Homo sapiens: one gene and its partners. The protein of the gene in region 1 purifies or fractionates together with the protein of each later gene. This does not show direct contact. Each region holds a gene or a part of one and is shown in the gene's direction. Other genes may lie near its edges.

The links.
Region 2: the proteins of LRRC27 (region 1) and FERMT2 purify together in Homo sapiens (co-immunoprecipitation; one large-scale study listed by IntAct). This does not show direct contact.
Region 3: the proteins of LRRC27 (region 1) and HERC4 purify together in Homo sapiens (co-immunoprecipitation; one large-scale study listed by IntAct). This does not show direct contact.
Region 4: the proteins of LRRC27 (region 1) and DHX32 purify together in Homo sapiens (affinity purification with mass spectrometry; one large-scale study listed by BioGRID and IntAct). This does not show direct contact.
Region 5: the proteins of LRRC27 (region 1) and SPECC1L purify together in Homo sapiens (affinity purification with mass spectrometry; one large-scale study listed by BioGRID and IntAct). This does not show direct contact.
Region 6: the proteins of LRRC27 (region 1) and MAP1S purify together in Homo sapiens (affinity purification with mass spectrometry; one large-scale study listed by BioGRID and IntAct). This does not show direct contact.

What each region holds. Positions count from the first base shown.
Region 1 is NC_000010.11:132,342,193-132,347,623, forward strand, and holds part of LRRC27 (leucine-rich repeat-containing protein 27), read left to right. Parts: intron 1-20; coding exon 21-79; intron 80-2,305; coding exon 2,306-2,458; intron 2,459-5,431.
Region 2 is NC_000014.9:52,866,350-52,871,780, reverse strand, and holds part of FERMT2 (fermitin family homolog 2), read left to right. Parts: intron 1-5,431. UniProt on the Homo sapiens protein: Scaffolding protein that enhances integrin activation mediated by TLN1 and/or TLN2, but activates integrins only weakly by itself. Binds to membranes enriched in phosphoinositides.
Region 3 is NC_000010.11:67,956,784-67,960,283, reverse strand, and holds part of HERC4 (probable E3 ubiquitin-protein ligase HERC4), read left to right. Parts: intron 1-1,147; coding exon of another isoform or gene 1,148-1,171; intron 1,172-3,307; coding exon 3,308-3,406; intron 3,407-3,500. UniProt on the Homo sapiens protein: Probable E3 ubiquitin-protein ligase involved in either protein trafficking or in the distribution of cellular structures. Required for spermatozoon maturation and fertility, and for the removal of the cytoplasmic droplet of the spermatozoon.
Region 4 is NC_000010.11:125,877,748-125,883,617, reverse strand, and holds the start of DHX32 (putative pre-mRNA-splicing factor ATP-dependent RNA helicase DHX32), read left to right. Parts: upstream 1-2,325; 5' UTR 2,326-2,793; coding exon 2,794-3,075; intron 3,076-5,870.
Region 5 is NC_000022.11:24,318,234-24,323,664, forward strand, and holds part of SPECC1L (cytospin-A), read left to right. Parts: intron 1-3,054; coding exon 3,055-4,685; intron 4,686-5,431. UniProt on the Homo sapiens protein: Involved in cytokinesis and spindle organization. May play a role in actin cytoskeleton organization and microtubule stabilization and hence required for proper cell adhesion and migration.
Region 6 is NC_000019.10:17,724,842-17,730,272, forward strand, and holds part of MAP1S (microtubule-associated protein 1S), read left to right. Parts: intron 1-207; coding exon 208-348; intron 349-987; coding exon 988-3,331; intron 3,332-5,431. UniProt on the Homo sapiens protein: Microtubule-associated protein that mediates aggregation of mitochondria resulting in cell death and genomic destruction (MAGD). Plays a role in anchoring the microtubule organizing center to the centrosomes. Binds to DNA. Plays a role in apoptosis.

The sequences.
Region 1 (5,431 bases):
TGTTTTGTTTTGCTTTAAAGGCATTTGAAAACTTTGCTTTTAGAAAGAAATCCTATCAAAATGTTACCTGTGGAGCTGGGTAAGTATAAAATAATAAAAAGATGATTTTAAAATGCTATCTTTTGAACTTGCCAGACCTTGTAATGGAAGTATCAGGCATGACAAAGGAGGGTAAGCTAGATATTTTAAAAATCCTTCCTACTTCTAGGACCAAGATAATGTAGCTCTCAAGAACTGTTGATATAGCACGTACTGTTCTTATGGAGGTGTGACGTGTGAGCCTTGTGTGAGGCACAGTCACAGTGAGGGCCATTGGCGCCGTCACACAGCTAAGGAAACTGAAGGCCCCGCACACACCTCTGCAGGCCCTGCGTGCTGTCTCCGCTGCATCTCGCTGGCCTTCCTGGGAAGTTTTACCACTTACGTATGTTCCTAGGCCCCATCATGACCACTTTTTTAGACTTCAGAATCTAAACACTCAAAACCAAAAGCATAAACTGACAGACAAATCAAACAAGCGTAAACTATCACAGAAGCAAGTTTTATGACCTTTAAAATATCTAGCAGAAACAGTATAAATTTGTCGGACTAGTAGCCCAGGAAAAAATGTCTAAAATTCTGAAGGCATTTCTATTATGAACTTGAGAAGCATTTTGGAGAACTAATTTATGAGTACTCATTTATTTGTAAGTCACTTGCTACCATGTAGACAGTATAAAAACAGACATGTATACGCATGTATACATAAAAGTACAAACATTAAGATTGTATAGCTTTGATTTTATTTTTAGCCATGAATCAGATAAAACTCATTAGTTTAAAAGAACAGTTGAGACCACGCATAGTGGCTCATGCCTGTAATCTTAGCACCTTGGGGCGCCAAGGCAGGAGGATCCCCTGAAGCCAGGAGTTTGAAACCAGCCTGGGTAACATAGTGAGACCCCATCTCTACAAAAAATAAAATAAAATAAAATTAGCCAGGTGCAGTAGTGCATGCCTGTGTTCCTAGGTACTTAGGAGGCTGAGGCAGGAGGCTAACTTGAGCCCAGGACTTCAAGGCTGCAGTGAGCTCTGATTGCACCACTATACTCCAACCTGGACAACAGGGCGAGACCCTCTCTCTAAAAACAAAACAACAACAACAACAAAAAACAAAAATAAAAGAACAGTTAGGTTAAATTGTGCCTTTGTAAATGGAACGAGTTATGGCTGGAACCCTTACACAGTTTTAGAGAAAACAGAATAGCAAATTTACACTTCAAAGAACAGAGAGAGAATTTAAGCTTTTTAAAGAAGGAGTTTGGGTGTGTTTGAAGACTAAAAATGGATGACAAGATAATACAGAGTCACTTGCCACAGGATTTGATAAGGAAACGAATTTCATTTAGATAGGTAGCTTCTAGTTTAGTCTCTGTTTTCCAACTGGACCAGTGAGCTCAGGGCAGAGCCCATTAATGGACAGGGCCAACAAGGCATTTGCAGTTTGTAGAGCCTAATACTTAACCTACATGTGAAAAGCGAGCGCGGCTGAAAGGTGGGACACCCAAATACCCAAAATCCAAGCATCCATCTTTCACACTGAACCCTGGCTCCCTCAGATTGGGAAACGCCACAGGACTAGGGCCCCTGCAGTGCTTCCCCGTGCTCCTCATTCCGGGGACTTCGCCCTGAGCCTGGGGAGTGAGCCAGCCCCCACCAGCCCACTGCCCACCACGGGAGCCTTACCTCTCAGCGGCCATCGTTTCCAAAGCCTCCAAGTTCACATAATTTCCATTTTTAGTGACATTTCACATTTGTGGAGTCCTTGTATTCTATTTTCTTCTAATTAAACACAATTTTCTTCATTTGCTTGAACATATTTAAATGGTTGCTTTGAAGTCTTTGTTAAACCCAACATCTGGGCCTCCTCCAAGACAGTTTCCATTGTCTGCTCCGTTCCTGAGTGTAGGGTACATTTTCCTTTTCTTTGCATGTCTGGTAGTTTTTATGTGGAAAATGGGCATTTTAGATAATATAGCGACTTTGTATTCTGAATTTTACAGAATTGTGAAGGTGGTTGTGGCTGCTTCTGTTTGTTTGATTTTATTTATTTGTTTTTTGGAAACCATCCTGGTCTTAATTTGCGGAATCCGTCTCCTGCAGAGTTACCTTTAAAGCAAATCTTTGACATCTGTTAACGTGATTTTCCCCCAAATACTGAATAGAATCATATTTTAAAATGTGAAAAGTTACTATTATTTATTCCTCATTTTCATTTCAAGAATGGTATATAGAATGCTGACAGTTTTTTTTTCCTCCACTGCAGGGAGCGTAACCACGCTGAAAGCACTGAACCTAAGACACTGCCCTCTGGAATTCCCTCCTCAGCTCGTTGTGCAGAAGGGATTGGTGGCTATCCAGCGCTTCCTGCGGATGTGGGCAGTAGAACACTCTCTCCCCAGAAATCCAACTTCTCAAGGTTTGTAGGAGGTGATTTATGACAAATCACATTAACGTTGAAGTTACAGCTTTTTAAAATCAGGGCAGAACCTGTCTTCTCTTTAATAACATCCTGAGAAATACAGGAGCCATGGGTCCTCTGCTGAGTTGACACAGTGTACACTGATCTCAGGCCGACCCAGTCATCTCTGTGACTTTTCCTTGGTTCTATAAATCTGGGCACATTATAGATCCTGGCTCAAGTGGATTTTGGTAGAAGTTTATTGTGATCAATCAAATGAAACAGTTATCACCTCCAAGCCACCCGCAGGCGGCTGCTTCAGGAATGACTTGATGCTGCATTAGGCAGCTATTTTAAAATAAGTACAATGAAATATTCCTTATTCCTAACGAGGTACAAGAAATTAGCAGGAAAATGGCCCTGTAGACATGTTTTATCTAATCACCTTGTTGGTGGGTGCTCACTAACCTGTTCCATTCTTTCAACATACTGACCAGCCAGGTATTTTCAGATGCTCATGATGTGTTCTGGTCTTGAGTACGCATTGTAGTTACACTTGGAAAAGGTAAAGTTAAATTGGGATAAAGGAGAATCATAATGAAGCCTTGCCAAAAAAAGTACATATTCTGAAATATTGTCAGAATATTTAAAATTTTACTATTTGTGATGTACTTTGATACTTAAGAAAAATGCATGTTTGGAACATTAGCCAAGGTGATTATAGATGTGCTGCAATTGAAATGTGTGGGTTAGGTCTTCGTAAATAACGTGTGGCCTTGCACTTTTGACCCAGATGGACTCTATTTGGAAATTGTTTTAAATGATTAAGAGTCAGCTGTTGGCCCTGTGCTTGCTGAGTTGTTTGTAGACATATTTTAACCAGGTTATAGTGGCTGCATTGGGGCATTGCGCTGAAGCCGCCTGGCTGTGGCACCCTTGACCCCGATGCTGCCAGGATGTTGTGATAAAAATAGGAAAAGAAAAGTAGCCGCTGGACTGGCAGTGTGGAGGGCACTGGGCACCTGGCAGGAGTGGGGGCAGGTAGCTGAGGGCATGGGGTGGCCGAGGAGAGATAGGACCAGGACCTGGAGACAGCTGGGACAAGGATGGAGGGGCAGAACCGTCAGGCACAGCCGGAGCCAGGACACAGGGAGCACAGGAGACACGGACAGACCCTGCTGGAGGATCAGGATAAAAAAGAGGAGAAGTTGAAGGTTCATTCCAGTTGAAGGAGACTAAAGGAATAGGAAACTGGATGTGATGCTTCATCCTGGATTGGATCCTGGGCCAGGACAAATATGATAAAGGACATTACTGGGACAGTTATCAAGGTGTGAGGAAGGCCAGCCAGTAAATGACAGAAGTCAGCGATGGGACGCTCCTGGTTTTGGTGAATCGCTATGGCGATGTGTGAGCATCTCCATCTGAGGGTGGAGGGGCAGGATGTCTGAAGTTACCCTTGAGTGTTTTAGGAAATGCATGAGCACCCCAGACAGAGAGGCGAGGGCGGGTAGGCTCATGGGGGCAGCAGCCTCGGGGGCCAGGCACCAGCGGCTGCTGATGGGGTGCGGGGTCCATCAACTTCTCAGCGGTGTTATTGCAACTTTTCTGTAAGTTTGAAAAAAATACATTAAGTAACTGGTCAAAAATAAGTATTTTCTGACTCTTTTCTATTAGGTTTTAGGGCCACATAGAGTGATTTTTCAGCTACTATGTATATTTTTAGTACTTTGTCCTTTCAATTACTTTAAAAAGTCTTTGCTGGCGGGCGTGGTGGCTCACGCCTGTGATCCCAGCACTTTGGGAGGCCGAGGCGGGCGGATCACGAGGTCAGGAGATTGAGACCATCCTGGCTAACATGGTGAAACCCTGTCTCTACTAAAAATACAAAAAATTAGTTGGGCGTGGTCGTGGGCACCTGTAGTCCCAGCTACTTGGGAGGCTGAGGCAGGAGAATGGTGTGAACCCGGGAGGCGGAGCCAAGATGGTGTCACTGCACTCCAGCCTGGATGACAGAGCGAGATTCCGTCTTAAAAAAATAAATAAATAAATAAAAGTCTTTTTGCTGTATCCCACTCTTCCTGTTTGCTTTCATTTTCATGAATTTCAGTTTTGTCCCTGGCCCTAAATCAGTTGTCCACAGGCAGATTGGTCAAATATGCATGTTTCTAGTCACTTGTACCCCAGGGGGAATTTTACAACTTCTTAGGACGTTTTGAAGCATGTTTGCCCATTTTTTAAAACTTTTCCTTTCAAACCTAAGACCCTGAGCACGCAGCAGTCAGGAGCATGTGGCAGCCAGGGGCGTGATGTCCATGCGCCTGTGTCCACTGCGACGGCCACCTGGGGTCTCACTCAGCCTTCAGGTCGTGCTGGGCACGTGCTGGGAGAAGACTGGCCAATAGGTCCCAGTGGCTCCCAAAGTGCCTGGAGTGCCTCTCTGAGGTCGTGTTTTGAGAAAGTCAACAAAAGCATCACCAAACAAGAAAAGCAGGCATAATGGGCTAAACATTACTTAGAAACAAAGATTCTAAGTGATCTGAGGGGAAGCAGAAATGTTGATTAAATGTGGCAAGATTGCCCTGTGTACACATGCAAAAAGTCCCTCCAAAGTGGTAAGGCCTATGTGGGAAGGTCAGGCGCGCCCGGTGGGGCCTGTGTGAGAGGGTCAGGCGTGCTCAGTGGGGCCTGTGTGGGAAGGTCACGCGTGTCCGGTGGGGCCCGTGTGGGAAGGTCAGGTGTGTCTGGTGGGGCCTCTGTGGGAAGGTCAGGCGTGTCTCATGGGGCCTGTGTAGGAAGGTCAGGCGTGCTCAGTGGGGCTTGTGTGGGAAGGTCACATGTGTCCTGTGGGGCTTGTGTGGGAAGGTCACGCATGTCCAGTGGGGCCTGCATGGGAAGGTCAGGTGCACCCAGTGGGGCCTGCGTGAGAGTCAGGTGTGCTCGGTGGGGCCTGCGTGGGAGGGTCAGGTGCTCCCAGTGGGGCCTGCATCA
Region 2 (5,431 bases), on another chromosome or scaffold:
TTTGTGGCAGGCCTGCTTCCTACAGCCTGGGCTAAGCCTGGATGAAGCCTCAGCTATTGGCTTTGTTTTGGATTTTGTTTTTCCTTTTCTTCAGTAAGGTCTATGACCTACAGCTTAATTTTCTATTTCAGTGATTTCTTCTATTGGTTCTTCATACTGCTCTTTCACCTTTTTCATCTGATGATGCCCTGGCTCAGCTGGTAGGCGAATTTCCTCTCCAGATTAGTCTGGTTCTTCTGCAGGTAGATGGCATTCTGCTGCTCACTGTGATTTCTTTGCAGAGCGTTAATGAGCCTCTCACTTGGGGTAATACTTTTCAATAAAATCACCTGGTTCACTTTCAGTGTAGATACCACTTCTCCAGAAAGCTGTATCCCCTGAGGACCACTCTCCCGTGAGCACACACCCTTGGCACATGGCATGCCTTTTGGATGATGCAGTCAATCAGCTGGCTCTGCACTGTCTGTTCCACAGTCCTCTCACTGTATCTTCCCTTAGAAGAGCAAAGACTAAAAAACTAAAATACACTTTCTAGACTCATTTCCAATGAGACTTAGATTCCAGTCAGGTGCATTCATGGGAGACTTAAATTCGGAATAGAGCTAAGGGGTTAGAGACACAGAAAATGAAAGGAGGGAGGTATTACTAGGCGCTGGAGCTAACACCTGCAGCCATAGTCTCCTGGTTTCCCACCTGCTTGATTATAGCAAAGGTTGCGCCACCCTTGGCAAGCCAGTTCTGAGTTACTCCTAGTGGCCCAGCCCATCTCTTCTTTGGGTACATTTGTACGTACACATATTTTTGTAGATAAGGCCTTTCTAACTCGAAGTATTCCGATGTGGACAACAGCACCAGGGAAAAGGGCTCCAGACTGATTTCACAAAAATGACTCCCAAAACAATTTCATTTAACACTTAAAACACAGAGGTGCTTTTCCTGATTCATATTCCTAAATTGTACTTAGTACAGTCATGTATCATTTAACAGTAGGGATACATTATGAGAAATGTGTCACCAGGTGATTTTGTCATTGTGTGAACATTATGGAGTGTGTGTACTTACACAAACCATGATGGTATAGCTGACTGCACACCTAGGCTATATGGTATAGCCGATTGCTCCTAGGTTACAAACCTGTACAGCATTTTACTGTACTGAATACTGTAGACAACTGTAACACAATAGTAAGTATTTGTTATCTAAACATATCTAAATCTAGAAAAGGTACAACTTGGCTGGGCGCGGTGGCTCATGCCTATAATCCCAGCACTTTGGGAGGCTGAGGCGGCGGATCATCTGAGGTCGGAAGTTGGAGACCAGCCTGACCAACATGGAGAAACCCCGTCTCTACTAAAAATACAAAATTAGCTGGGCATGGTGGCATATGCCTGTAATCCCAGCTACTCAGGAGGCTGAGGCAGGAGAATTGCTTGAACCTGGGAGGTGGAGCTTGCGGTGAGCTGAGATCACGCCATTGCACTCCAGCTTGGGCAACAAGAACGAAACTCCGTCTCCAAAAAAAAAAAAAAAAAGTACACTTGTATAGAGCAGTTTCCATGAATGGGGCTTGCAGGACTGGGAGTTGCTCTGGGTGTGAATGGGTGGTGAGTGAATATGAAGGCCTAGGACATTACTATATGCTACTATAGACTTTATTCAATAATTTTCTTTCTTCAAACCTTTGCTTACTGTAACTTTATAACTACTTTTAACATCTTGACCCTTTTCTAATGACACGTAGCTTAAACATTGTACAGCTATACAAAAATATTTTCTTTATATCCTTATTCTATATGTTTTTTTGTATTTAGATTTTTATTTTTTATTTTTAACCTTTTGTTAGCTTAAATCACAGGCACACACATTAGCCTAGGCCTCCACGAGATTGGGATCATCAATATCACTGTCCTTCACCTCTGCATCCTGTCTCACTGGAAGGTCTTCAGGGGGAGTAACAAGCATGGAGCTGTCATTTCCTCTGGTAACAATGCCTTCTTCTGGAATACCCCTGAAGACCTGTCTGAGGCTGTTTTACAGTTAACTTTTTTATTTAAGTAGAAGTACTTTGTAAAATAATGATGAAAAGAATAGTATAGTAAATACATAAACCAGTAACATAGTCATTTATCATTATCAGGTATTATGTACTACTTATAATTGTACATGCTACATCTTTCTATTACTGGCAGCAGAATAGGTTTGTTTACACAGATGTGAGCTATGATACAGCTACAGTGTCACTAGGCAGTATTTTTCAGTTCCATTATAGTCTTATGAGGGCATTGTCGCTGTCGTATATGCAGTTCGTTGTTTACCGAAATGCTGTTATGCAATGCGTGACTGTATATTGTACATTAGGATAGATTTACCGTATTTCAACACAGTGTTGAAATCTGTACCCTAGTACATGAGCTCTGCCTAGTAGTCACTTAAACTATTGCTTTTAAAGTTACACAAATTTTTAAAAAATAGAAAAACTCAGTCCTGGGTAAACAATTGCTATTCCCACATTTTGGAATTCTGTAATTTACCTGAAACTCTTAATTAGGGTCACTACCTTCCTCTCTCAGTCACGGGCGTTTCACTTTTGGGTCTCTGTCATTCTTTGTTGCTCTCAGGATCTGTTGCAACCTTCTCCTGCTTCCCTCTTCAGCTGCCCAGGACCAGCGTAAATGATCCACTGTTGACTTTGAGACTAAATCTGTCTTCTGGCCCCTGTTCTCACTGTCCCTGTTATATCTTAACCTTCTTCCTGTATAACTAAGAGGTCAGGTCCTGGCATGGAATTAATAAGTTTATAAGCTGTTCTCAGTTTTCATCCCACTGCTCCCAAGTCCTCTCAAAGGACTCATCACACTGATCATTGCACTCATCACAGGCACCGCACTGATAACACCTTGACCAAGAATCAAATGGTCTGGATGCTGCTCTTCTACTAAACAAGCCCTATGATTTTTGTTGTTTCGTTTTTTGAGACTATGTTGTACACGCTTATCTCCAACTCTTGGGGTCAAGCGATCCTTCCACCTCTGCCTCCCGAGTAGCTGACACTGCAGGTGCACACCACTACACCTGGTTTAGATCTGTGATTTTGGAAAGATAGCACATCTGGGCCTATAGTATCTTCTTCTGAGAAATGAGAGTGTTAGACTGGATGCCAAGGCTTCATAGAGATCTAAAATGCAAAGTTATTAAAAATTCATTTCAGCTAATACTAAGTGAACTCCTGTGCCACAAACTGTGCTGGGTACTAGAGATACAAGGAAGAACCACTTACAGTCTCAATCCTCAGGATGGTTTAGAGCATGTTGGCGAGATAAAATTACAATTGGGGTAATAAATAGTACTTTGGAAAGGAAAGGAAAAGAGCAAGGGGTAAGGGTGTTCTATAACTTAATCTTCAGTGAGGATGGAGAGACTTCATCGGGGATGGAGAGCCAAGCACAGTGGCACATGCCTGTAATCCCAGCTACTCAGGAGGCTGAGGTGGGAGCATTACTTGAGCCCAGGAGTTCAAGACCAACCTGGGCAACATAGCCAGACCCCATCTCAAAAAAAAAAAAAATGCCTAGAGAGTTTTGTGCTGCTGGAAAATAGAATTTAAGGGGAAGGATGAATACTTCTTAATAGCTATTGAATCTGATTCCTGCTAACATGAGAGGTAGTCGCAGAAGAAACTGGCAGACATTAGATGATAAAAATGGTAAGGAGATTGCTTTTTGAACTGGCAGCAGTGACGTGTCACTGAAAGAACATTAACACAAAAATGACAAGATCCATATTTATACCAGTTATGGTGCAGAGGAGTCATTTTAGAGAGATGATAGTAATCCAAATTAAGGTAATCAACATGGGATGAGAAAAGGGGCAGATTGAATAGATACTGAGGAAGTTTGGTCAATAGTCTGGGTGACTTATTTGGGAGGAGGTTGAAGTGGGGTCATTTTTCTGATTTGTGCAATTGGGTGGATAGTGTGATACTGAGATAAGAATGTAGAAGATGAGAAGAATGTAGAAAAAGGAGCTGGGTTTGGGGGGAAAGATGAGTTTAATTTGGGGATATTTTGAATTTGAGGTGCCTGTGGGATGTCTATTTGGAGCTAGCCTGTAGACATTGGATTAGGGGAGAGATGCACATGCTACAGATACTGATAGGGTAACAGTTAGCAGTAATGGTAAGTGCAGCCATTGCAATGGTTGTCTGTAATGTGAGAAGACAAGATGAAGAATAGAACCCTGCAGATCACCCATGTTTAAGAGACAGGGCAGGTTAGAAGAAGGGGACCTTGCAAAGGAAACAAAAAAAAAATGCATAGGAAGACTATGGCAGTGAAGTATGATGAAAGCTAAGATAAAAGTTGTTTCAAAAGGACAGAGTAGTCAACAATGTCCAGTACTGTAGTAAAGTAAGGTAGTTAGGCCAACATAGTATCTAGCCATGTAGTTCATGACCTTGATAAGAACAAGTTAAGTAGACTTCAGTGGTTTATTGAGTATGGAGCCAAAGTACAGTCACTGAGAAGTAAATAAGAAACAAAAATGGCTGGGCACGGTGGTTCATGCTTATAATCCCAACATTTTGGGAGACCAAGGCAGGTGGTGGATTGCTTGAGCCCAGGAGTTTGAGAACAGCCTGGGCAACATGGTGAAACCCTGTCTCTATTTAAAAAAAAAAAAAAAAAGGAGGCAAAGCTTTTTAATGAACTTTATCTATGACAAGGAAGGGGGAAAGAGGTAACAGAAAAGGGAGGTAGGTTGTGGTGTAAGATGGGAGAGACTCAAGGAAATTAAATGCTGGTGGAAATGTGGCAGTAGAAAGAAGGAAATGTAGTGTCTGAGAGGGAGGATCTCAGTGGTGGAGCAGGGTTGCTCGGATGGTAATGAACTCAGCCCACTTGGATAGGAAAGCTGGAGGATGAGGGATGCCTCTTGCACTGCGTGGAAGCAAGGACAGCTAAGTTTATCTTGTACGGTGGCAGGAAATGGATGGACTTAACTTCTGGTGGCTTTCATTTTCTTGGAGACATAAGAGGTGGAGTTGTCCCTTGAGACCAAGTGACATTGTAGGATGTCTGAGAAGATTTGAAATAGGCATTGTTGAAAATGTCTGTATAAGCACAGAAGGATGCAAGCATAAAGGGCCCAGCTGAGGTTGGTATCCATGAATCTGTAGTGAAACCTTTTTTTCTTGCTTCTTCCCATCTTGCAGTGCTAAGCAGCCTGAGTATAGGCAAGGAAAAGTTAGAGGGATTTATTTACCTAGGGTGCAGATTTTGCTAGGAGAATGTATAATGTGAAGACAGTGAGTCTCGGCAGTTGGAGTTGATGTCCAGTGAATGTGGTCCAGGCTGGTTGGGAAGGAGGGAGCTGTTGCTTCCTTCTGTTGCTGTTGGGGAGAAAGTGGAGGGGTTGCAGCATAGGGTTCCTCAAA
Region 3 (3,500 bases), about 64 Mb from region 1:
TTCTGTTGTCCTTTCCATGTAGAGTCATGGATGAATTACTTTCCTGGCATAGATGTGTAACAATACAGAGTATTTCTAGCCAAAGAAGCTCACCAGAACCCTGGTGCCCAGAGTTTTTACTGGGGTTCAATCACATCCTGCTCCCGTAGTGACCTCTAGTTCCCAGCTCTTCTGGAAGCAGAACTGACAGCACATGGCCCAAGCCCCTATCATAAGTCACATTGTCCAGTGGCTAAAGCGCCAGGCAAACAAAGACACTCCTATCAGGCATGATATTGCACAGGTCTATAGGTCACCTCCTAGTAACCCAGGGCAATGCCCTCTCTTCTGGGGTAAAATTAATTCCTCACAACACAAGGCACCGTCCACAAATTTAGTAACATATTTCTGAAGATTCTGGTGCTTTACACGAGTCTGTGCTCTGAGCATATGTGGAAACTTTCTACAAGAAAATGTACATTTCTGTTCAATAAAGTGGTAAGCTTTCATTATAATTTCCACTATTACTGCCTTAATAAATATATCTTTCTCTCTTCATTTCTTTTTGCTTACCAACCCTTTTTCCCTGTCCTGTACTTTCTATTTTAAATTAATTCAGTTTTAAAGAATGCTTAATGTAAGATACCTTATGTTTTACTGTTTTTTTTTCTGTCAAATAAAAACAATTTATGGCTTATTTTTTCTTACTTTGTGTCCATATGGCATTTTAATCTACTAAACACTGTCAGACATTTTGCTGAGATTTTAAAGTCTTAAAGTCTGAGGAATGTTTTTTCCATTTTTTTTAAGTAGAAAAACTGAGCCATAAATTTTTTTTTTTAAGACCAAGCCAGGCATAGGATTAGTTTTCTTATTCTGCCTAAATTCTGCAAATGGGGGTGTTTAATTGCTGAAAACAAATTTCATTATGTTCAAGCCTCAATCATTTTATGATCACAAGGTACCTGAAACAAAGATCTTACATTAGTAGATATATAAGATGCTTGTGTAGGGGGTGTATTTGATTGTAGATGTATTTTCTACCTCATTACTTCAATATTCTGCTGTAGCAAAATATATGAAATGCTACCTTGAATAGAAATAGTTAAATTTGGACACTAATATTGCTCTTTCCTCGTTATTGTTATATTCTGCACTGCTGTCTTAGGATGTCAACCATGGATTAACTGAGGTAAGTTTGGTGTAATAAAGCTCATGTTTAGAGTAAAATATACTCCATTTTCTCCTGAGTAATAGAAGAGCCAAAGATTCGTTTTTTTGGTGTGGTTAAAAAATGTAAATAAATAGATATATATGTATCATTTTTTAAAATACAGTCTGTAGAGATTATCTTGTATAACATTTCAGAAGTTTTCTGAAGAAAATGAAATTCTGTTAACATTACACCTATATGATGCCTCAACAATATTTGCTTTAGAATAGTTTCTGTCCTCCTCAAGTCTTCCAGTATAAAATGTAATGTGTCCTCAGAATATAAAAAAGCAAACTTTTATTTTAAAATTTAGCAAATGCCTACCTAATGTGGCTGAAAACATTTTATATTAGAGAAGTAAAACAAACTTCATTTTTAAAATTGATTAATTGATACTCAGAATGGTCACAAAGTTAAACTTTTTGTATGATTATCTTTCTCACTTCTAATATATAAAGTTCTAGCACTTTGGTTTAAGTAATCAACAACCCTAGACTACCCTTTTAACACTTGGGAACATTATAATACTTTCTTTATCCGTTATAGATGTCAGGTTTTGCTTTGATTTGCATTTTGTTGGTTGCTATGTTTTTCCCAGCACTTGAACCAATGAAGCATTTTGAGTTAGCTTTAAATTATAGCTCTAATATTGTTTGCTTCCTCATTGTCAAATAGAATTAGCACATAAAATTATGAAAACATAGAGTTTTGAAGCCAAAGGGTGCTTTGGAGATATCTAAATCTTTTTGAATTTCAGAGAAGTAAAATTAGTTTTTATGATCATTAGCTAGGCAGTGCCACAAATATAGGATGGAGGTAAACCTTGTCACATGAAAAATACTGAAGAGTGAATGTTTAGAATGTAATAAAATACAATTTAGGGAGAGCATGATTAGGACTTAAAATATTTAAACTACGTACACTTCCCAGCAGGGGCAAAGCAAAGACTAAATGATGCATAGTGATATATAGAAATGCAGATTCAGGCTGGGCACAGTGGCTCACGCCTGTAATCCCAGCACTTTGGGAGGCCGAGGTGGGCGGATCATGAGGTCAGGAGTTCAAGACTAGCCTGGCCAACCTAGTGAAACCCCATCTCTACTAAAAATACAAAAAATTAGCCGGGTGTGGTGACAGGCACCTGTAATCCCAGCTACTCGGGAGGCTGAGGCAGGAGAATCGCTTGAACCCCAGAGGCGAAGGTTGCCGTGAGCCTAGATCGCACCATTGCACTCCAGCCCCGGCATCAGTGCAAGACTCTGTATGGGGGAAAAAAAAATGCAGATTCAGACTATAAAGAACTGTCTAATCACTAAGAAGTGGATTGTTTTAGGGTGTATTAATTCTTCATTAGAAGTCTCATAGCAGGGGCTCTGAGTCAGGGCAGGCACAAAGATATTGTTTTACTGGGTAGATGGTAGAAGTAGGTCGTCCTCCAACTACAAGAATGTGTGACTGGCAATTCATAACTCTTTATATTTTACTGCACTATTAAAATACTTAGCAATCAATATATTACCTGCCAGGATAAGTAATTGTCTATAAAGTGTCTAATGTCTAATAATGATAATAATAGATCAGTTCTCGTAACTTTAAAGGCTAACAGAATAGTAATACTAATGGTACTTTTTTGTATATTAAGTAAATGAAGAGATTATTGGACTCATAATAATTTTGATACCCTAATGACATTATACTCAATATCTGTTAAATGAAGGAATAGACAGATTACTTATCATTAGCCTCAGTTGCTGCAGTTGCCCTAACATGTAAGAATTGGCTATCGCATTTAACATAGGAGCCCCCAATTTTAGAACAAATTTGCAACCTCATTCACTGAGATTTGCAATTAACATATGCTAAGCAAAAGATACTTGCAGTATATGATTGTATAGACTCTCAAGTATACAGTCGCCCCCTAAAATTGGGAATTGGGTTCATTCCAATGCCTCATTTAATTTTTAATAATTCTGTAAGCAGCATGTTTTATTTGTAATTCCAGAACCACATGAGTGAATAAACAAAGAATGTAGTCCACTTTATAAGAAATGTCAGCATCCACAGTAAGTATATCACAAATCAACTTGTACTAATAAGTTAATTTTTTATTTCCAGTTGGCAGATATCCCTGTTACAATCTGTACATATCCATTTGTATTTGATGCCCAAGCAAAAACTACTCTGTTACAGACCGATGCAGTCTTACAGATGCAGGTAAAATATTATTTGAGAGGGTTTTTTTTTTTAATTGTTTCTTTGATGTTTCTGGACAGTAAATATTTGAAATTTTCCTAGGATCAGTAATGAA
Region 4 (5,870 bases), 6.5 Mb from region 1:
TGGATGCTGCTTCTGCTCAGTTGGCTGGGGTTGCAGTCATCTGGAGGCTCGACTGGGCTGGGGCATCTTAGGCAGCTTGTTCACATGGTTGAAGGTTTATGCTGCTGTGGACTGGAAGTTCAGCTTTGGTCTCTTCCCGGTGGCTTGGGCGTGGGTACCTCATAGAATGACAGCTGGTTCTAAAGAGGAGTGTTTCAAGCATGGGAATATCTTGGAAGTGATTCAGTATCACTTAACTGCATTATTTTAGTCATAGTGACACTGGTCACAGGGCCAGCTCAGATTCAAGGGGAGAGGAAATAGACTCTACCTCTCCATTTGGAACAGTGGCAAATAATCTGTGGCCATCTTTAATTCCACTATAACAGAGAAGTGGTTAAGGCTAATGTGTGTGGATACATTGCACAATGTGTGATGAAGGGGCCAGGTAAGTCTCAGGTCTTTAGAAAGAAGACTATTCAGAAAACTTGATTATTTCCTCAGGGTTCAAAGTGGTCAGTGCTTTATAAGTAAGAATTTACTGTAATTATAAGATTATTACACTCTTAGGGAGTATTATAAATAAGAGAAACATTTCTTTTTGGTAAAAATAATAGCTGTTCTTTTTTTAAGGTAAAACAGTTAAGAAATACTACCTAAGGCAATCATTGGTTATAATATTTAATAGCAATTTAATTTACATGTAGGCTGAGAACCCTTGGAAGGGATTCTAATCAGAACAAAAGAAAAATAGAATATAAAATTAAATTTTAACTTCTCTGAAGAGTGGAATTTTCTGATTCTTGGATACCTTCCCAGAATTAGCTTGTGCGATGATCTCAAGCTACCATGCTTCCTGGAGCTATTCTGTGGGTCTACTCTCACCTTATAGAGGCAGTGAAGAGTTCTGAAGTGAATCCATATTACAACATTTCTATTATGCCTTTGTAATTCCATTTTAATTTTGAAACACTGGCTTTTAGATGAATTTTTAAGAACTTTACTTGGGAAGAGCTATGAAGTTCTTCTGCCTCTCTGGTTACTTACCTCTAAACTAGCTTGTTCATCTGTGAATTTTAAAACTTTCTATCCTGCTCTTGCTGCCATCTTCAAAATATCCTTTATGTGTGTATCTAGTGCCTAGTTTACTCATCTAATAAGCCCTTAGAAGACACTCAGCAAATGTTTTTTGAGTGATTGACTGTTGCCCTGGAGCCTGTCTTGACCAATAGAGAGAGAGCTTTTCTTATCACTTACTAATTAGGAACTAGCTGTTGAGCACACTGGCTCCAACCATCTAAAGCAATAATTAAGGTAAACCAGGTGATCCGAAAAGTGCAGTAACTTACAAAATATCATGAACTGTATTTTATTATTCTTTTTAACTTGAGTTTTCTTTTTCATTTTTATCTGGTTAATGTGAAAAGGAGCTTATTTCCAGCAACACTAATGGAATTTTTCTTTTTAATCACTAGTAATTGGAAGGGGAAAGACCCTTCACCTGACATGTGGGGACTGAGTTATTGGTATAAATCTTGCTCTTTCTTGGGTGATTTCTCTTCTTCATTTAAATTAAAAGTTGTCCTTAATGGCCTCTTGGAGCTGACATGTTGGGCTCAAGACCCAGGAATCTCAAGAAATATGCTAGAGATTTCTGGTTTAATTAAACAAAAGACCTTATTAATAAAAGCCAGCCAGCTGGGCATGGTGGCTCACATTTGAAATCCCAGCACTTTGGGAGGCCAAGGAGGACAGACCACTTGAGCCCAGGAGTTCGAAACTAGCCTGGGCAACAAGGCAAAACTCCGTCTCTACAAAAAAATACAGAAATTAGCTGGACATAGTGGTGTACACCTGTAGTCCCAGCTACTCAGGAGGCTGAGGCAGGGGGAAAACAGCCTGGGAGGTTGAGGCTGCAGTGAGCCATGATCACGCCACTGCATCCAGCCTGGGTGACAGAGCGAGACCCTGTCTTTTTTATATATATATAAAATAAAAGCCAACCATAACTACATATGGAAGGAAATAATAAATTCATTCCCCTCACTTGGCTTTCTAAACTGACATAAGCAAAAGGAAAATGAAAAGTTTTAAAAATGTTTTTCATTAAAGTAAAGGATTTCTTAATAATAGATTTTCCTGTAGCCTGTGTTAGAGGAACACTCACCAGGTCATCACAGTTCTTTCCTTTTATAGGGTCCAGCTCCTCTTTTGACATGGGATTAGGTGACCACGTGATTGATTAGCCTCACAATCACAATCCTGTCCCTCCTGTTGCTTTCCATTCACAGTTGATCAAGACGCAGAGCCTGAGATAGAGGTCAGGCAGAGAGCACGAGGCCCAGTGCAGAATCATTTTCTGAACCAGCCAGGAAATACCGGAACCCACCAAACTTTAAACACCAGCCTAAATTATTCCTGTTCTTTTAAGCAGGCAGCAGAAATGACAGAAACCCGTTAACAGAAAAAAAAAAAATAATGCTTTTCATTTGAACTCCTGTGCATTTTCTTTTTAACTTATATGTGTTCCTAATTTTCCTTACTCTTTTTGTTTGTTTGTTTCTTAGTGTGGTTTATTGACAATCATTTACAATGCCGAAGAGTGCTGTAGTGAGCCAGCACAGTGGGTAACACAGCAACGGAGAACAGATGCAGGTTTGAGGAATTTAACTTGCTAAAACCTTGAACTGAAGTCTTAGAGATTGGAACATACGGGTTTGTATAAATAGGCTTTTAAGCCCTGTTTGCAATGGGTTACTGATAGGAGAAACTTGCTTGTGGAATGTCAGCTGCGTGAGCTCACTGTCAGACAAGATGGAAGAAGAAGGGCTGGAGTGTCCAAACTCTTCCTCTGAAAAACGCTATTTTCCTGAATCCCTGGATTCCAGCGATGGGGATGAGGAAGAGGTTTTGGCCTGTGAGGATTTGGAACTTAACCCCTTTGATGGATTGCCATATTCATCACGTTATTATAAACTTCTGAAAGAAAGAGAAGATCTTCCTATATGGAAAGAAAAATACTCCTTTATGGAGAACCTGCTTCAAAATCAAATCGTGATTGTTTCAGGAGATGCTAAATGTGGTAAGAGCGCTCAGGTGAGTAACCACTACAAAAAATAATTTGCTGTATGTGTTGATTTTTTAATTGTTATTTAATGACATGTCACAGCCTAGTGTTCTAATAATAGTGTCTAAAACAAAAAACAAAACATTATTCAGATAAAATAATTAAATCACGTACCTAATTTTATTAATTTTACTAATACTAGCTGAAAAGTTAATAATATCTATGTAGAAATTAATTGTGTTTAGGGTACCACTGAATTGTCTATAGAGCAGTATTAAAATTACTCAAATGATCCTAGTATTAAATTTACTCAAATGATCCATTGTGTATATGATATTTTAAAAGATGTGATGCGTGTTATTTCCTCAGCATGGGTATGGGGATTAACTGCTCTGTTTCAGTGCCCAGTGGTCTGAGAATCCAGATATGTGGATGTGCTTGCTGGTGAAGCTGGCTGAGCTACTGAAATCAAAAGCACAAGGAAATTCTGATTTTCCTGACTATAAGAAATAACTGAGCAACTAAATATGATCCAGGCCTGGGGCCACACACTTTGGGGTCTAAGATGGGGGAAAGAATTAGGATCATTAAGAGATAAACCTAGGGATATTAAAATATTAAAGAGTTGGAGCAGGCACAGTGGCTCACATCTGGAATCCCAGCACTTTGGGAGACCAAGGTGGACAGATCATTTGAGCCCAGGAGTTCAAGACCAGCCTGGGCAACATGGCAAAATGCCGTCTCTACAAAGAAGTAGCCGGGCATGGTGCTGCATGCCTGTCGTCCCAGCTACTTGGGAGGCTGAGGTGAGAGAATCACCTGAACCTGGGAAGTTGAGGCTGCAGTGAGCTGTGATGATGCCCCTGCATTCCAGCCTGGGCGATGTGAGTGAGAGACCTTGTCTCAGAAAAAAAACAAAAAAAACAAGGAGTTTGTTTGAGCAAAGAATGACTCATGAATTACGCAGCACTCAGAACCATTGGAGGTTAGTGAGCCCCATTCTAGCAGCAAGGGCAGTGAGCTTTTATAGGCTGAACATGAAAGTAAGACAAAAGACATTTAAATTGGTTAGAGTGGAAAGTTCCGAGTTAGGGAATAGTTGGCAGTTTCTGATTGATAAAGTCTAGTATGGTTTTACTGTTTACATTGGACTTTAGTTTGCTTATGTGGGACCTTCTAGAGCTCTGTCATTGCCTCAGCCTAATGGCCTCTCAATTAAAGTTTGTTTGTTTGTTTAACGGGATAGTGGGCCAGGTGCAGTGGTTCACACCTATAATCCCATCACTTTGGGAGGCTGAGGCAGGAGGATTGCTTGAGTCCAGCAGTTTGAGACCAGGCTGGGCAACATGGCAAGATCCCAACTTTATAAAAAATTAAAAAATTAGCTGGGCATGGTGGTGCGTGCCTGTGGTCCCAGCTACCCAAGAGGCTGAGGCAGAAGGATCACTTGAGCCCATGAGGTCAAGGCTGCAGTGAGCCATGTTCATGCCACTGTACTTCAGCCTGGGCAACAGAGCAAGACCCCGTCTCAAAAAAAAAAAAAAAAAAAAAAAAAACAAGAAAAGGCTGGGCGCTGTGGCTCATGCCTGTAATCTCAGCACTTTGGGAGGCCGAGACGGGCAGATCATGAAGTCAGGAGTTCGAGACCAGCCTGTCCAATATGGTGAAACCCTGACTCTACTAAAAAATACAAAAATTAGCTGGGCATGGTGATGCACACCTGTAGTCCCAGCTCCTTGGGAGGCTGAGGCAGGAGAATCACTTGAACCCAGGAGGTGGAGGTTGCAGTGAGCTGAGATTGTGTCACTGCACTCCAGCCTGGGTGACAGAGTAAGACTCCATCTCAAAAAAAAAAAGAAAACAAAACAAAACAAAAAAAAACACCAAGAAAAACAAGGTAGTGTAGAGAAGGAAAAAGTAATAATTTTCTCTGTCCTTCATAACTCTTATCTGAGGCTCCCTGTAACAAAAGACAAATTAACAGAAGAAAAACAGAAGTGTATTAATATGTATGCCTCATGTATACACGGGAAAACCCCAGAGAAATGAGCAAGTCTCTAGAGTAGATCTCAAAGAAAGCATTTAAATTTTGGGCTTAAATACCATCATTCTCTGAAACAAAGTAAAAAAGGTTGTGGGGAACAACCCTGTTAAGATGAGATGGCCAGGAAAAGCACCTTAAATGAAGGTGAAGTTTGTTATGAAGATGTAAGTCGATGTCTTCTTTACTTAGTCATCTCCTCCTGTTGCAGAGAGGGAGATGCCCTTATAAGCAGAGATTTCTTGTATAGGCACAAATTTATCTTTAAAAAGGTAACTTTTCAGAGCTACTCCTATGTCTACACTTTCTCAAAATGTGCAAAGGAGGCATATTTTGGGGTCACATATTCTGGTCTCCTTCAGTCATATTCTGGGGAGGTATGTCCTGAGCCCCAACATTAGATAGTTAATAAATACTTATTATTCAGTTTGTTGTTGTATTTGGACTTCAAGTTTTTGTTCAAGTGAGATCCATATTTTACTCTTAAGTTTTAAAGCAAGCAACCAGTATTTTTATCATGAAATTCATTTCTAGATTCTCGCGATGTAAGAATTAGAATAGACCATATAGTGTGAATAATAAGAAGTCCCATTTCTCATAGAGAAGTTACGAATAGATCTAGTAGAATAGACTATGCTCTAATAGAATAGAATTAGAAACTGATGGAACCCCTTCATTTTTCAGATGAATAAACTGTGGCCCAGAAGGATTTGATAATTTGTCTATCTAATGTCAGTAGCTTTCTGAATTGGAGTTAAAAGAATATTTTCTACTATAAATTGT
Region 5 (5,431 bases), on another chromosome or scaffold:
GAGCAATGAGTGAAGGAGACTCCGTCTGCAATCCCGGCACCTCGGGAGGCCGAGGCTGGCAGATCACTCGCGGTTAGGAGCTGGAGACCAGCCCGGCCAACACAGCGAAACCCCGTCTCCACCCAAAAAATACGAAAACCAGTCAGGCGTGGCGGCGCGCGCCTGCAATCGCAGGCACTCGGCAGGCTGAGGCAGGAGAATCAGGCAGGGAGGTTGCAGTGAGCCGAGATGGCAGCAGTACAGTCCAGCTTCGGCTCGGCATCAGAGGGAGACCGTGGAAAGAGGGGAGAGGGGAGAGGGAGAGCCAGATTTTCTTTTTTATAAGGATTTTTGATTTAGATAAGGATGTGGTACCACTTGCAGAACTAGGGAAAGGAATTAATGTTGGGGAAAAAAGTTACCCCAGCCAGGTGCGATGGTGCACGCCTGTAATCCCAGCACTTTAGGAGGCCAAGGTGGGCAGATCACTTGAGCCTAGGAGTTCAAGACCAGCTTGGGCAACATGCCCAATGTGGTGAAACCCCGTCTCTACAAAAAATACAAAAATTAGCTGGGTATGGTGGCGTGTGCTTGTAGTCCTAGCTACTCGGGTGGCTGAGGTGGGAGGATCACCTGAGCCTGGGAGGTAGAGTTGCCGTGAGCTGTGATGGCACAACTGCACTCTAGCCTGGGTGACAGAGCCTCAAAAAAAAAAAAAAAGTTATGCCATCTTTTTCCATTTTTGGCCTCCGTATACAGTTGTTTATCCCAGTCTGGTTACTCTTGCCTTTGATATCTGTCACAGATTTCTTGCCTCTTCTCTGTTCTTACTGCCGCCCCTGAATGTGGGACCTCTTTTACCTCATTGATCTACCTGCCCACATTCCTCCTCTGCTGCTCTGCTTTCTTCCTTATGTATTCCACTTAGAATCTGTATTAGTCCATTCTCATGCTGCTGTAAAGAACTGCCCCAGACTGAGTAATTCATAAAGAAAAGAGGTTTAATTTACTCACAGGTCCACAGAGATGGGGAGGCCTCTGGAAACTTAGAATTATGGTGGAAGGGGTAGCAGGCACATTCTTCTCCACATAGTGGCAGGAAGGAGGAGAATGAGAGCCAAGCAAAGGGGAAGCCCCTTACCATCGGCTGTCATGAGAACTCACTATCACGAGAACAGCGTGAGGGTAACTGCTTCCATGATTAAATTACCTCCCAACAGGTCCCTCCCGAAACACATAGGGATTATGGGAACTACAGTTCAAGATGAGATTTGGGTGGGGACACAGCCAAACCATATCAGTATCCTCTAGATTAATTTTCATAAAATGTACTTTTCCTTACATTTCTTTCCTACTCAGGATCATTTATTGACTTAGTGTGACTCACTGAATTCTGCCTATCTTTTGGGACTCTATATGAACATTCCCCAGCAGCTTCCGTTAACTGTGTGACTGTACTTTTCCTTTCTGTGTGCCATGTTCACTTCTGCTTCCTTTCGTTGTCTGTCTTTTTGCCAGCCTGAATTCCGCATCCTCCTGTATACCTGTTCTGTTAGTGGCTATCTCCCTCTATCTGTGGAGATCATTTGCTCCCTGTTACCTCTACAGCCTGGATCCCACCACCTAATGAACCAGCAGGGTCTTTAAAAATACTTATTGATTAGATGTGGATCTTATTTTTTAACATAAAAATTTGTTATTTCTTAAGTATTTACAGGTATTTAAACATATTCCTGGCCAGGTGCGGTGGCTCACGCCTGTAAGTGCGGTGGCTCACGCCTGTAAATTCAGTGGCTCACGCCTGTAATCCCAGCACGCTGGGAGACCGACGCGGGCAGATCATTTGAGGTCAGGAGTTTGAGACCAGCCTGGCCAACATGGTGAAACCCTATCTCTACTAAAAATACAAAAAAATTAGCCAGGCATGGTGGCACGCTCCTGTAATCCCAGCTACTTGGGAGGCCTAGGAAGGAGAATCGCTTGAACCTGGGAGTCAGAGGTTGCAGTGAGCCGAAATCGCTCCACTGCACTATAGCCTGGGTGATGGTCAAGAGAGACTCCATCTCAAAAAAAACCAAAAAAACGAACAAAAAAAACTTCCTGTTCTTTTTGTATTAAACAAATGATTGTGTCAGTTTTCACAGGTTTAAAATTTTAGTAGTTAAGTAATCATGTGATTCACGTAGATTTGATTGACGCATCATCATTATTTAACATTAGTGCTTCGTTGTTTTTTACATTTAGAGAGACAGTATAACATACTGGTTAAGGTGCAAAATCTGGAACCAGACTGCCTGGGTTTCAATTTTGGCTCATCTATTTATTACCTGTGACATGTTGGCAAATTATTTAACATCTGTGTCTGAGTTTCTTCATCTGTAAAACAAGGTGATAATAGCACCTACCTCACGTCTTTAATGAGGCTTATATAAGTTAATGTATGTGAAGTGTTAATGTATTTGTATAACCAAGTGCTAGGTATGTGTTAGCTATTGTTATAATTGTTATTATTTATGTGGCATTTTATGGTGTTAAAACTATTTTGCATTTACTTTGGTCAGAGTAAAATTTTTGTGTTTCTAGTAGGTAGCTTAGATTTTTGGTTTTCCCAGAGACTGCTTTTCCCTTCTTGCCCACCTATGATCTCCCTTCACTATCTGTGTACAGTTAGTTTACCACCGACTGGCTAATCCTGGAGTCATCTTCACCTGTCTTGCCCTAGAATATTATGCCTCTGGCCAACTGGTTAAAACCCCACTTCTGGATTCAAGTTAATGTATATCATTTAAATAACAGCTTTGTAGAAATGTAATTCACATTCCATAAAATTTACTCTTTTAAAAACATGTAAAACAAAGTGTATAACTTATTTCTCCTTGATAATTAAAAGATGAATGATCTTCTGGTTTTGAAGAAATTGAACTTTAACAGACTCTAAGGCAAGATTATTGTAGATCTAAATCATTGTGTAGATCCTGGATTTCATCTCATTACACCTGGGGCAGGAACTGTGTATTCTATGTAGCCTTTTATTGCTGACATTTTTGCCTTACATTTTTTGTATTAAACACATAGGCACAGCTTCTTCAACCAAGCGGAGCACTTCTACAGGTAATAAAGAATCCAGTTCTACTAGAGAAAGATTACGTGAACGTACCCGATTAAACCAGAGCAAAAAACTACCTTCTGCAGGTCAGGGAGCTAATGACATGGCATTGGCCAAACGTTCCCGCAGTCGAACTGCTACAGAATGTGACGTTCGTATGAGCAAGTCTAAGTCAGACAATCAGATCAGTGACAGAGCTGCTTTGGAGGCCAAAGTGAAGGATCTTCTCACGCTGGCAAAAACCAAAGACGTAGAAATTTTACATTTGAGAAATGAACTGCGAGACATGCGTGCCCAGCTGGGCATTAATGAGGATCATTCTGAGGGTGATGAAAAATCTGAGAAGGAAACTATTATGGCTCACCAGCCGACTGATGTGGAGTCCACTTTATTGCAGTTGCAGGAACAGAATACTGCCATCCGTGAAGAACTCAACCAGCTGAAAAATGAAAACAGAATGTTAAAGGACAGGTTGAATGCATTGGGCTTTTCCCTAGAGCAGAGGTTAGACAATTCTGAAAAACTGTTTGGCTATCAGTCCCTGAGCCCAGAAATCACCCCTGGTAACCAGAGCGATGGAGGAGGAACTCTGACTTCTTCAGTGGAAGGCTCTGCCCCTGGCTCAGTGGAGGATCTCTTGAGTCAGGATGAAAATACACTAATGGACCATCAGCACAGTAACTCCATGGACAATTTAGACAGTGAGTGCAGTGAGGTCTACCAGCCCCTCACATCGAGCGATGATGCGCTGGATGCACCATCCTCCTCAGAGTCGGAAGGCATCCCCAGCATAGAGCGCTCCCGGAAGGGGAGCAGCGGGAATGCCAGTGAAGTGTCCGTGGCTTGCCTGACTGAACGGATACACCAGATGGAAGAGAACCAACACAGTACAAGTGAGGAACTCCAGGCAACCCTGCAAGAGCTAGCTGATTTACAGCAGATTACCCAGGAACTGAATAGTGAAAACGAAAGGCTTGGAGAAGAGAAGGTTATTCTGATGGAGTCTTTATGTCAGCAGAGCGATAAGTTGGAACACTTTAGTCGACAGATTGAATACTTCCGCTCTCTTCTAGATGAGCATCACATTTCTTATGTCATAGATGAAGATGTAAAAAGTGGGCGCTATATGGAATTAGAGCAACGTTACATGGACCTCGCTGAGAATGCCCGTTTTGAACGGGAGCAGCTTCTTGGTGTCCAGCAGCATTTAAGCAATACTTTGAAAATGGCAGAACAAGACAATAAGGAAGCTCAAGAAATGATAGGGGCACTCAAAGAACGCAGTCACCATATGGAGCGAATTATTGAGTCTGAGCAGAAAGGAAAAGCAGCCTTGGCAGCCACGTTAGAGGAATACAAAGCCACAGTGGCCAGTGACCAGATAGAGATGAATCGCCTGAAGGCTCAGCTGGAGAATGAAAAGCAGAAAGTGGCAGAGCTGTATTCTATCCATAACTCTGGAGACAAATCTGATATTCAGGACCTCCTGGAGAGTGTCAGGCTGGACAAAGAAAAAGCAGAGACTTTGGCTAGTAGCTTGCAGGAAGATCTGGCTCATACCCGAAATGATGCCAATCGATTACAGGATGCCATTGCTAAGGTATTGTTTAAATAGATTAAAATGTTCCGGACAGCATTAGGCAGCTGCCATGCACAGTGTTTACTGAGAACCTGGGTTACTGGTTTGGTTTGGTGTGTTATTAGCTTTTTTTTAAAACTGATATTTTTAAAACTTGGGAATGGTTTCCTTTTATTGGAATAGTGTGAAAAGTATTCTTAAGATAATGTCACTTTCTCTCACTTGTATTTTGTTTCTGTTTTCCTGCCTGTGAGAGGATATGGCTGGTATTACAGCTAAAACCAGAATTTGTCCCTAGTTCTGAGTATTCCTATGGAGCGGGTCATGAAATTTTACCTCCCCCCGCCTCATCTCGAATCTGTTTTGGTGTAATAGGTGGAGAGTCAGTATTCCAGTCTGTAGCATCAGCAGTGCATGTTTCCTCTTATCTTGCTATAGTAATAGTTTTTCAAATAGAGATCTGTTGATAGTTAAAAAATATTTTTGGCATATAGAGGCTCCTGTTTCTCAGAGGCCTGTGATTTATTGCTGGCAGGGACCTTAGCAATTATCAGTCCAGACCCTTGTTGTACATGCCTCCAGCATAATAGTGAGGACTCAGTTGGAACTGCTACCCAGGGCCACTGGCATTCTGGCCAGGGATCTATCTATACCCCATGTGGTTGCTGATGAACTGTTTATTTCCATGAGTTATTCTAGTTATACTAGTTATTCTAGCTTACATTTTATTTATTTGTTATTTTAGTGCAATGATTTTAAAATAAATT
Region 6 (5,431 bases), on another chromosome or scaffold:
TGTAGGATGAATAGGAGTTTGCTAGGGTTGCTCCAGGGCCCAGCAGGAGACCTGGAGACTGCCTTCGTAGCTAGTTGAGCACTGGGCTGGTCGTGGGGTGAGGACAGGAGAGGGGTGGTTATGTATCGACTCGAGGCTACCCCAAAGAGGACTGCTGGATACGTCACTGCACAGAACGGGTCCTTTAGTGTTCACCCCCTCCCTCAGCTCCGGAACCTTCTGTTGGACCCTGCCTCTCACAAGCTACTGGTGTTGGCTGGGCCCTGCCTGGAGGAGACGGGGGAGCTGCTGCTACAGACAGGGGGCTTCTCGCCTCACCACTTCCTCCAGGTCCTGAAGGACAGAGAGGTAAGCCACCCCTTTGCCATCCCCTGCTTCCCCAGCTCTGAATCCTGACTGGGGTGTATCAGGCTGTGTGGCACCAGCGACCTGCTGTTTTCCATGGCCTGGTCTCCCCATCCTCTGTAGGATGGCAGTGGTGACACATGCCTCCTGGCTGTCTGGGGTCAGTCCCATTGCCCGCGAAAGGGTGTGGTGTGAGCTGAGTTTGTAGGTCAGCAGATGTCCCAAAGTCCTGATGAGGGATGGAGCCAAATGGGTCCTTCCTGGTGCCCGCAGTCTGGGTAGGACACATGGGCAAAATGGCAAACCTCACTTTCACATTGTAGTGGGGCACTTAAAAATGGTGAGAAAAGGTTCAGTAGACAGGTGGGGCGTGGAGAGTCTCCTTGGAGGGAGCTGTGCCCTGGGAGGAGAGAATGGTGAGTGTAAAGGCCCTGGGGCAGGGAGGCATTTGAAGGGGAGGGAGAGACAGGAGGTGAGGCCAGATCAAAGAGCCTTGTGGCGCTGGAGAGGGTTGGGTTTTGGCGGGAGGGCCCTGAGGAGCAGGCCCTGGGGGAAAGGATGAGGGTGTCCTCGCCCAGTTTTCCCACCGGGCTAGGTGTTGCCTGGCTCTAGGTGGTCCCTTACCACTCCTCCTCCATACAGATCCGGGACATCCTGGCCACCACGCCCCCACCTGTGCAGCCGCCCATACTCACCATCACCTGCCCCACCTTCGGTGACTGGGCTCAGCTGGCACCCGCTGTGCCTGGCCTTCAGGGGGCGCTCCGGCTCCAGCTGCGGCTGAACCCCCCGGCGCAGCTGCCCAACTCTGAGGGCCTGTGCGAATTCCTGGAGTACGTGGCTGAGTCTCTGGAGCCACCGTCCCCCTTCGAGCTGCTGGAGCCCCCGACCTCCGGGGGCTTCCTCAGGCTGGGCCGGCCCTGCTGCTACATCTTCCCTGGAGGCCTCGGGGATGCCGCCTTCTTCGCCGTCAATGGCTTCACTGTGCTGGTCAACGGTGGCTCAAACCCCAAGTCCAGTTTCTGGAAGCTGGTGCGGCACCTGGACCGCGTGGATGCCGTGCTGGTGACCCACCCTGGCGCCGACAGCCTCCCCGGCCTCAACAGCCTGCTGCGGCGCAAACTGGCGGAGCGCTCCGAGGTGGCTGCTGGTGGGGGCTCCTGGGACGACAGGCTGCGCAGGCTCATCTCCCCCAACCTGGGGGTCGTGTTCTTCAACGCCTGCGAGGCCGCGTCGCGGCTGGCGCGCGGCGAGGATGAGGCGGAGCTGGCGCTGAGCCTCCTGGCGCAGCTGGGCATCACGCCTCTGCCACTCAGCCGCGGCCCCGTGCCAGCCAAACCCACCGTGCTCTTCGAGAAGATGGGCGTGGGCCGGCTGGACATGTATGTGCTGCACCCGCCCTCCGCCGGCGCCGAGCGCACGCTGGCCTCTGTGTGCGCCCTGCTGGTGTGGCACCCCGCCGGCCCCGGCGAGAAGGTGGTGCGCGTGCTGTTCCCCGGTTGCACCCCGCCCGCCTGCCTCCTGGACGGCCTGGTCCGCCTGCAGCACTTGAGGTTCCTGCGAGAGCCCGTGGTGACGCCCCAGGACCTGGAGGGGCCGGGGCGAGCCGAGAGCAAAGAGAGCGTGGGCTCCCGGGACAGCTCGAAGAGAGAGGGCCTCCTGGCCACCCACCCTAGACCTGGCCAGGAGCGCCCTGGGGTGGCCCGCAAGGAGCCAGCACGGGCTGAGGCCCCACGCAAGACTGAGAAAGAAGCCAAGACCCCCCGGGAGTTGAAGAAAGACCCCAAACCGAGTGTCTCCCGGACCCAGCCGCGGGAGGTGCGCCGGGCAGCCTCTTCTGTGCCCAACCTCAAGAAGACGAATGCCCAGGCGGCACCCAAGCCCCGCAAAGCGCCCAGCACGTCCCACTCTGGCTTCCCGCCGGTGGCAAATGGACCCCGCAGCCCGCCCAGCCTCCGATGTGGAGAAGCCAGCCCCCCCAGTGCAGCCTGCGGCTCTCCGGCCTCCCAGCTGGTGGCCACGCCCAGCCTGGAGCTGGGGCCGATCCCAGCCGGGGAGGAGAAGGCACTGGAGCTGCCTTTGGCCGCCAGCTCAATCCCAAGGCCACGCACACCCTCCCCTGAGTCCCACCGGAGCCCCGCAGAGGGCAGCGAGCGGCTGTCGCTGAGCCCACTGCGGGGCGGGGAGGCCGGGCCAGACGCCTCACCCACAGTGACCACACCCACGGTGACCACGCCCTCACTACCCGCAGAGGTGGGCTCCCCGCACTCGACCGAGGTGGACGAGTCCCTGTCGGTGTCCTTTGAGCAGGTGCTGCCGCCATCCGCCCCCACCAGTGAGGCTGGGCTGAGCCTCCCGCTGCGTGGCCCCCGGGCGCGGCGCTCGGCTTCCCCACACGATGTGGACCTGTGCCTGGTGTCACCCTGTGAATTTGAGCATCGCAAGGCGGTGCCAATGGCACCGGCACCTGCGTCCCCCGGCAGCTCGAATGACAGCAGTGCCCGGTCACAGGAACGGGCAGGTGGGCTGGGGGCCGAGGAGACGCCACCCACATCGGTCAGCGAGTCCCTGCCCACCCTGTCTGACTCGGATCCCGTGCCCCTGGCCCCCGGTGCGGCAGACTCAGACGAAGACACAGAGGGCTTTGGAGTCCCTCGCCACGACCCTTTGCCTGACCCCCTCAAGGTCCCCCCACCACTGCCTGACCCATCCAGCATCTGCATGGTGGACCCCGAGATGCTGCCCCCCAAGACAGCACGGCAAACGGAGAACGTCAGCCGCACCCGGAAGCCCCTGGCCCGCCCCAACTCACGCGCTGCCGCCCCCAAAGCCACTCCAGTGGCTGCTGCCAAAACCAAGGGGCTTGCTGGTGGGGACCGTGCCAGCCGACCACTCAGTGCCCGGAGTGAGCCCAGTGAGAAGGGAGGCCGGGCACCCCTGTCCAGAAAGTCCTCAACCCCCAAGACTGCCACTCGAGGCCCGTCGGGTGAGTACTGGAGCTGGGGCCCTGGGCTGGGTTAGCAGCTGCTTAGGCTGGAGAGCATAGCTCGTCCCCCTGTTTTTACATTTTCAGTTTTTTTAAAAGAGATGGTCTCACTCTGTCTCTGAGCTGGAGTGCAGTGGTGTGGTCACAGCTCATTGCAGCCTTGAACAATGGGGCTCAAGCCACCCTCCCACCTCAGCCTCTCCAGTAGCTGGGACTACTGGCACCGCCACTACCCCTGCCTAATTTTAAAGTTTTTGGTAGAGATAGGGTCTTACTATGTTGCCTGGGCTGATTTCAAACTCCTGGCCTCAAGCTGTGTGCCCACCTCAGCCTCCCAAAGTGTTGGGATGACTGGCGTGAGCCACGGTGCCCTGCCAGTTCTGTTCTTTTTTTTTTTTTTGAGACAGAATTTCGTTCTTGTTGCCCAGGCAAGAATGCAATGGCACGATCTTGGCTGACTGCAACCTCTGACTCCCGGGTTCAAACAATTCTCCTGTCTCAGCCTCCCGAGTAGGTGGGATTACAGGTGCCTGCCACCACGCCTGGCTAATTTTTGTATTTTTAGTAGAGTTGGGGTTTCACCATGTTGGCCAGGCTGGTCTCGAACTCCGGACCTCAGGTGATCTGCCCACCTTGGCCTCCCAAAGTGCTGGGATTACAGGCATGAGCCACTGCACCCAGCCAAGTCCTCCTGTTCGTAATTACTTCGTGACCTCAGCCGTGCCCACCTCTCCGGGGCTCAGTTTCTCCTGTGAAATGGAAACTGACCTCAGTGTTGAAGCACTTGCCATTCTGAGGTGCCTGGACAGGTGAGCACGTATGCCAACTGTGGGTTTCTAGAAGCCACAATAAGTAAAATGAAACAGTTGAAAATTTAAATAGCGTATTTTATGTAACTGATTGGTTAGGAGGACCCGGCCTATGGTTGCACTCATAGCAGAGCAAAATCAGCAAAGAGAAAAGGCACATAGGGTGAAGTCCAAAGGAAACCAGGCAGAAGCTTCCAGAATCCTCTCCCAGTGGGGCTGCACACCACAGGCTTCATTTCTCCAGTAGCAAGTTGTAACAGTGTGTCCCTCATGGAAGCTCATTAGACACAGCATGCCCAGGTTTCCTATTGGGCCATTACATAGGCATCTTCTGCCTGGCACCCACACTCTAGACTCCCCAAAAAGGAGAAATCAGGTGTGTGGTCCAGTCCAGGCACAGGGAGCCCCTCTCAGACAGGGAATGGTGGGAACCCTCTGCCTAAGATCCAAATTCCCAGAGACCAGCCAAAGGCTCACATTTTAAGCAGGCCTTGCTGAGAGGAGGGTCTCTGGCCTGCTGTGCTGTTCTTTGTTTTTTTTCTGAGACAGAGTCTCACTCTGTCATCCAGGCTGGAGTGCAGTGGCGCAAACATGGCTCACTGCAGCCTCGACCTCCTGGGTTCAAGCAACCCTCCCACCTCAACCTCCCGAACAGGTGGGACCACAGACACGCACCATAACGGCCAGCTAATTTTTTTTTGAGATGGAGTCTTGCTCTGTCACCAGGCTGGAGTGCAGTGGTGCGATCTGAGCTCACTGCAACCTCTACCTCCCGGGGTCAAGCGATTCTCCTACCTCAGCCTCCCAAGTAGCTGAGATTACAGGCATGCGCAACCATGCCCAGCTAATTTTTGTATTTTTAGTAGAGATGGGGTTTCACCATGCTGGTCAGGCCGGTCTCGAACTCCTGGCCTCGTGATCTGCCCGCCTCGGCCTCCCAAAGTACTGGGATTACAGACGTGAGCCACTGTGCCCAGCCTACGCCCAGCTAATTTTAAAATTTTTCAGTAGCACTGGGGTCTCACTATGTTGCCCTGGCTGGTCTTGAACTCCTGAACTCAAGTGATCCTTTGGCCTCGGCCTCCCAAAGTGCTGGGATTATAGGCATAAGCCACCACGCCCGACTCAACGTTTAATTTTGGATGAACCGCCAGACTGTTTTCCACAGCAGCTGCTTGACGCTAGCCAGTCTAATGGGTGTGAGGTGGGATCTCATTGTGGTTTTGATTTCCATGTCCCTAATGATTAGTGATGTTGCATCTTTTCATATGCCTATTGGCCATTTGTCTGT